Homo sapiens: one gene and its partner. The protein of the gene in region 1 purifies or fractionates together with the protein of each later gene. This does not show direct contact. Each region holds a gene or a part of one and is shown in the gene's direction. Other genes may lie near its edges.

Region 1 (3,811 bases):
CAGTTTAGACCTTATGAAATTTTACAAAAGTAAAAAAAATTAATTGGAAGTATAAGTTCTAGATCCTAACACCTCTTCTTTAGTCTCTTTTTACTCCAGGAACTAATATGTATCACAACTGAATGGAGGGGTTAAATCTAATGCTTTTATATTTGATAATTGAACACAATTATAATGGAAAGTTTCACCTATTAGAACAGAATTTTTAAAGAAACTTAATATATAATAGTAATTATGTTAAAATGAATAGCTCTTTTTCTAAGTGTACCTTAAAGTAATCAGAGCTTATTCTTGTTATTAATTAATAGTTACTCTTAAAAGTGGTGAGATTTACAGTAGCAAGTGACATCAAGTGATATCTTATTTTTTAAAAAAATTATCTAGTCTTTTGATTGGAGTCAATGAAGGTAGCTAGCTGATATACTATTTCAAGGGGTAAGATAATGAGGGCATATTACTTAATTAAGGTTGGCTTTGTTTAACTCTAGTTTGGTGACCTTAATGACAAATAATTTTTTAAAAATTAAAGATAGTAATAATAGTTTTATTTCATGTGTATTATATAGCTACAATTTTGTTATACACTTTTAATATAAACTACCTCATTTAATCCTCACAAACATTTTCAGGTCATTTGTATTTATTTAGAGAAGAAGAATCATTTTGTTCCTTTTATAGTTCATTTCCCTCTTGGTGGATGTGAGACTGATAACCCTGGGAAGAGAAACTGGTGAAATAGTATCTCTTTGGACACCAAAGCAGAGTGGATTGTGGCTACTGTCTGCCTGTCCTCTCACATCTTCAGTGCCGTGTTCTCTATGAGCACCTCCTTTCTTCCCCTTAACACAGAAACTAAATCCAATGACTGTATTAGTTTGGTTCTGAGAATTGTGTCTCTTAATAAGAGAGTTAAATCATAGCTAACTGCTTGCTCTTTTATACAGTTACAATTTGTAGATGCCTGTAATAGATAATATTCTAATTGAAAAGAAAGGGAAAAGGGAGAGCTACAGTTAGATACAAAAGGTCTATAATAAATGTAAGCTAGCAAGAGTATTGATGATAAAATTTCCAAGTTTTACAGCTACACAATAGAGAGCAAGGAATAGCTTTTATGGTGTTTTATAGCTGGTATTCTTAAGTACACAGCATTTTAGTAGAAATACTTTGTGGGAAAGAGTATAATGGGTTTCACAGGTAGCATTTACAAAACACATTGACATATTTGGAATGGAAAGAATTTTGCTCAAAGCTAGTAACCACATGTAAACTTATTTTTAGGGTATCAGAAAGTTTCAGAAAAAGAAATAAGGAAATTCAGCCTTTTAGTTCATATACTTACTTTAAATACTATGTAAATGTTTTTAATTTTTAAGCAAAAACACCATCGTTTCTTTTTTTTTTTGAGGCAGAGTCTTGCTTTGTCACCCTTGCTGGAGTGCAGTGACATGATCTTGGCTCACTGCAACCTCTGCCTCCCGGGTTCAAGCAATTATCCTGCCTCAGCCTCCCGAGTAGCTGGGATTACAGGTGCCTGCCACCATGCCCCGCTAATTTTTGTATTTTGAGTAGAGACGGGGTTTCACCATGTTGGCCAGGCTGTCTCGAACTCCTGACCTCATGATCTGCCCACCTTGGCCTCCCAAAGTGCTGGGATTACAGGCGTGAGCCACCGTGCCTGGCTTCAATGTTTTATTGGTTGTCCTTAACCTTGATTGTTGATGGATGGATGGATGATACATGGACAGCCTCATTGTTTTTTTCATACTGGTTACCTATCTCCCTTTTCCCATTAAAGGAGCAGCCATGTCTTATTTTACCATTGTATCTCTAATGCCAGATTCACAGTAGAGGTCACCAACTGCTTGCGGAATTAATAGTTGATGGAAAGGGAGATTCAGGAATTACCTGTGAGTTTACATTGGATGATTGTAATTGCTCCCTGCCACCAGTTTGCATGGGTAATCTACACAGAGGCCTCAGATTCCTTATATGTAAGGTGAGGATAATAATAGTACCTACCTCACAGTATTGCTGTGTGGAGTTAATGAGGAAATATATGTGAAGCTCTCAGAACAGTGCTTGGTGGAGAAAGCATTCATTAAATGGTAGTTGTTAGCATTGTAACTACCATCATATCGACTTATCTATTGGGAACTTACTGTAATGCCTAGGCACTTAAGTATTATTTCTAACCTTCAGGGTTAGGCAGTACTATCACCATGTTGTAGGTGGGGAAACAAGGTTTAGTTATCACGGATTTGCTTAAGGCTGCACAGCTAGTGGGTAACACCCCTGATTTAAATCCAGCTGTGTTGGGCCCCAAAGCCTTTAGTCTTTTACTATTTCAAGCTGCTTCTCTGAGTTGAAAACCAAACCCTAGAACTAAAGTAAACCTAATACCCAGTATATTTTCACCATCAGGGATATGTGGCAAGAGTAACTGGAGAAAATACCTTCCAGGTTTGCAGAAGTGTCAAAATGTTGTGGGACTCAAAGTGTGAAATCAGGGGAGCCTTGTTGTTTGTCTCCTTCTCTAGAAGTATGAGACACCATCTATACTGGTGGATCTTGGAGCCAGAGATCTTTAAGGAGGTAGAAGAAGTAGGAGAGTGAGAAACTAGCCACAGAGCGCCACTGCCTTATTCTCTAGACTGAGCAGGAGCTTTTTGTTCCGTCTCTTTCTGTGTTCCCATAACAGATTTATTGTTCTTCTATCACCACACTTGTGGTACCCTGCCATGTTTCACTGATAACTGTTTCCATCTCTGTTTCCCTTACTAAAGTAACCGTTCCTTGAAGACCAGCATCATCTTGCTATCTGTGTATGAATACCAAGAGTAACCAACAGACTCTCTAGAGCTCACTGCTGTCTTAACGAATTTGTCCAAATTGGCTTGCCACTTTTTCTCTCTTGCAGACAGAGCTTAATGCATAATTGAGTATTGTGAAGGCTGTTTCCAATTCTACAAATAAAGAACTCTTGATAGAGGGGATTTTTTTTCTATTAGTAATCAGTATTTCTCATGGTTAAGCACACTCCTTTACTCCAAAACTTCCTGGTGGTTCCTCCTTGCTCACCAGTGAAACACAGGCCCCTTAACTGATATTCACAGCTGCCTGTGGCTCTGGCCGCTTTTCTGGCCCATCATTCCCCTTGTCCTTGTTTACGCTGTGCAGCAACCAAGCTAAAACACCCATCTTGCTTTAAATGTGACTTGAGCTTCTTTGCATTGTGTTGCCTTTGCCTCACATACTTTTCTCCTTTATCTTGTACTAAATAGTAAATCCTACCTATCCTCCAAAGCCCATTGTGGACAACACCTTCTGTGGCCAGAAGTAAGGGCTTTCTTCTTAGACCTCTCAGAGCCATTTGGCTTTCTCCCTCGGTGGCATTTGCCACAGTCTCACATGTTAACTATCTGAATGTGTCTCATCTCATCCCTTTGATTGAAAGTTTACTCATTAATGCTGGCATTAGCAACCAATCCTCACAGCAGTCCTGTGAGGAATTCTCCTGCTCATCTTGAAGATTAGGTTAGGAAACTACCATTTGGTGAGGTTAAGCAAGTTGCCTGTGAACATGGTATATTAAGTGCTGGATTCTGCACTGCTGGTCTCTTTGGCTGTAACTCTGATGCTGTCTCTTTAGTGCATCCCAATGCCCAGAAAATAAGAAGTGTTCAGTAAGAAAGTGTGGAGTTGATTTGCTCTTCCTCATTGACATTTAGTGTTGTGCCTTTAGGTGCTCAATAAATGCTTCATGAGTACATTAATAAAACCAAGACCTGAATATCAGATTTCATCAAAT
Region 2 (3,204 bases), on another chromosome or scaffold:
ATCTAATTTCCTTACTGGTCAGAGAGAGGTTTAATTGTTATAAAAACCTGGCTCCCCTATTAGAAACGGGGTTAGCAATTTCACGGGTTATATATTTTAGAGAACCTCATTAAGTGCTTTTTAAAATGAAATTCCAGTTCCAGGCGAACCCTGACTATCAAATGAGTGGAGATGACACCCAGCATATCCAGCAATTCTATGATCTCCTGACTGGCTCCATGGAGATCATCCGGGGCTGGGCAGAGAAGATCCCTGGCTTCGCAGACCTGCCCAAAGCCGACCAAGACCTGCTTTTTGAATCAGCTTTCTTAGAACTGTTTGTCCTTCGATTAGCATACAGGTAATAAGGGAGGGAGGGAGACAATCCAGGGAGGCTGTGAGAGAAATCAAGAAAGGAAAAGAAAGGGAGGAAGGGAAACCAGAGGGTGGGGTAGAGAAAAAGACAGAATAGGAAATGGAAGTCGGAGAAAGGAAGAAAAAGAAAGAAAACAAAAAAAGACGAGAAGAAGCGAGCCCAGAAGCCTTGGATGAATGGAATGGAGGTGGGATAGGGGGCGTTCTTGATTGTTATGAAATTAAACCCTTTCAAGGTCCACTGGTCTACATTTTATTAACTCTTCAGTAATTAGGTGACTCTTAAATCCCTCATTTATTGCTCTTCAAGTAATTAGTTGTTTAGCTTTTCTCTCTCTCTTTTTCTCCCCTCTCTCTCTTTGGTATTAATTGCAGGTCCAACCCAGTGGAGGGTAAACTCATCTTTTGCAATGGGGTGGTCTTGCACAGGTTGCAATGCGTTCGTGGCTTTGGGGAATGGATTGATTCCATTGTTGAATTCTCCTCCAACTTGCAGAATATGAACATCGACATTTCTGCCTTCTCCTGCATTGCTGCCCTGGCTATGGTCACAGGTCAGTACTGCAGGCGCAGGGCGCTTCCCCTCCAGAACTGCCTAGCAGGATTTGTCCTGAGTTTCCCTTGTCACAGATTCTCCTTGGTTTTGCCAACTAGCTAACTGTCTTGTACATTCTTCTTTTGTTTCTGATTATGTTTTCTGCAGAGAGACACGGGCTCAAGGAACCCAAGAGAGTGGAAGAACTGCAAAACAAGATTGTAAATTGTCTCAAAGACCACGTGACTTTCAACAATGGGGGGTTGAACCGCCCCAATTATTTGTCCAAACTGTTGGGGAAGCTCCCAGAACTTCGTACCCTTTGCACACAGGGGCTACAGCGCATTTTCTACCTGAAATTGGAAGACTTGGTGCCACCGCCAGCAATAATTGACAAACTTTTCCTGGACACTTTACCTTTCTAAGACCTCCTCCCAAGCACTTCAAAGGAACTGGAATGATAATGGAAACTGTCAAGAGGGGGCAAGTCACATGGGCAGAGATAGCCGTGTGAGCAGTCTCAGCTCAAGCTGCCCCCCATTTCTGTAACCCTCCTAGCCCCCTTGATCCCTAAAGAAAACAAACAAACAAACAAAAACTGTTGCTATTTCCTAACCTGCAGGCAGAACCTGAAAGGGCATTTTGGCTCCGGGGCATCCTGGATTTAGAACATGGACTACACACAATACAGTGGTATAAACTTTTTATTCTCAGTTTAAAAATCAGTTTGTTGTTCAGAAGAAAGATTGCTATAATGTATAATGGGAAATGTTTGGCCATGCTTGGTTGTTGCAGTTCAGACAAATGTAACACACACACACATACACACACACACACACACACAGAGACACATCTTAAGGGGACCCACAAGTATTGCCCTTTAACAAGACTTCAAAGTTTTCTGCTGTAAAGAAAGCTGTAATATATAGTAAAACTAAATGTTGCGTGGGTGGCATGAGTTGAAGAAGGCAAAGGCTTGTAAATTTACCCAATGCAGTTTGGCTTTTTAAATTATTTTGTGCCTATTTATGAATAAATATTACAAATTCTAAAAGATAAGTGTGTTTGCAAAAAAAAAGAAAATAAATACATAAAAAAGGGACAAGCATGTTGATTCTAGGTTGAAAATGTTATAGGCACTTGCTACTTCAGTAATGTCTATATTATATAAATAGTATTTCAGACACTATGTAGTCTGTTAGATTTTATAAAGATTGGTAGTTATCTGAGCTTAAACATTTTCTCAATTGTAAAATAGGTGGGCACAAGTATTACACATCAGAAAATCCTGACAAAAGGGACACATAGTGTTTGTAACACCGTCCAACATTCCTTGTTTGTAAGTGTTGTATGTACCGTTGATGTTGATAAAAAGAAAGTTTATATCTTGATTATTTTGTTGTCTAAAGCTAAACAAAACTTGCATGCAGCAGCTTTTGACTGTTTCCAGAGTGCTTATAATATACATAACTCCCTGGAAATAACTGAGCACTTTGAATTTTTTTTATGTCTAAAATTGTCAGTTAATTTATTATTTTGTTTGAGTAAGAATTTTAATATTGCCATATTCTGTAGTATTTTTCTTTGTATATTTCTAGTATGGCACATGATATGAGTCACTGCCTTTTTTTCTATGGTGTATGACAGTTAGAGATGCTGATTTTTTTTCTGATAAATTCTTTCTTTGAGAAAGACAATTTTAATGTTTACAACAATAAACCATGTAAATGAACAGAATTTTGTCTTCTTTTTGGGTCAGAAAAAATAATGACTAAACAGCAACATAACATACACAGTTGGAGATTAATTTGGGATAGGTCACTTATTCAATATCTGAATTTTAAACAGCCTAAATCTATTCTGGCAAAAGAAATCAGGTGAACCAGAATAATTATGCAGATAATTCAGTAAAATATTTTTTCTTAACCAGAATTTTCCAGTCTGGTGACCAATATTTATTAGGATCAATTTAGAATATCTCAATTCTTCTGTTAACTTTGCAAGTAAGTGTAGCTTTCAGGAGAGAAGTTCTGGAGACCCAAAAGCTTTTGAACTTGAGCAAGGTCAGAGTCTAGTCAAGTACTTGTCTTGCACAGTGATTAGGAAGTATCTTTTTAAGACTCAAGAAGTCAACATGGATTTGAGGAGTGTTGTATGTAATCTCCGATTTTCCAATTTCTCAATTTACAACTGTTGGGTCATGGAGAAAGGGCAAAGCAGTTCAGGCCCTTTGGGCCTTGGGTCACTTTGGCACAGAGCAGAACTCAGTAGAGGTAGTTCTTACAACTCTTTATTTTCCTCATTCAGTGGATGGT

Evidence for each region.
Region 2: the proteins of FDX1 (region 1) and NR4A2 purify together in Homo sapiens (tandem affinity purification; one large-scale study listed by IntAct). This does not show direct contact.

What each region holds. Positions count from the first base shown.
Region 1 is NC_000011.10:110,457,221-110,461,031, forward strand, and holds part of FDX1 (adrenodoxin, mitochondrial precursor), read left to right. Parts: intron 1-3,811.
Region 2 is NC_000002.12:156,323,854-156,327,057, reverse strand, and holds the end of NR4A2 (nuclear receptor subfamily 4 group A member 2), read left to right. Parts: intron 1-137; coding exon 138-340; intron 341-729; coding exon 730-908; exon of another isoform or gene 909-911; intron 912-1,057; coding exon 1,058-1,314; 3' UTR 1,315-2,621; downstream 2,622-3,204. UniProt on the Homo sapiens protein: Transcriptional regulator which is important for the differentiation and maintenance of meso-diencephalic dopaminergic (mdDA) neurons during development.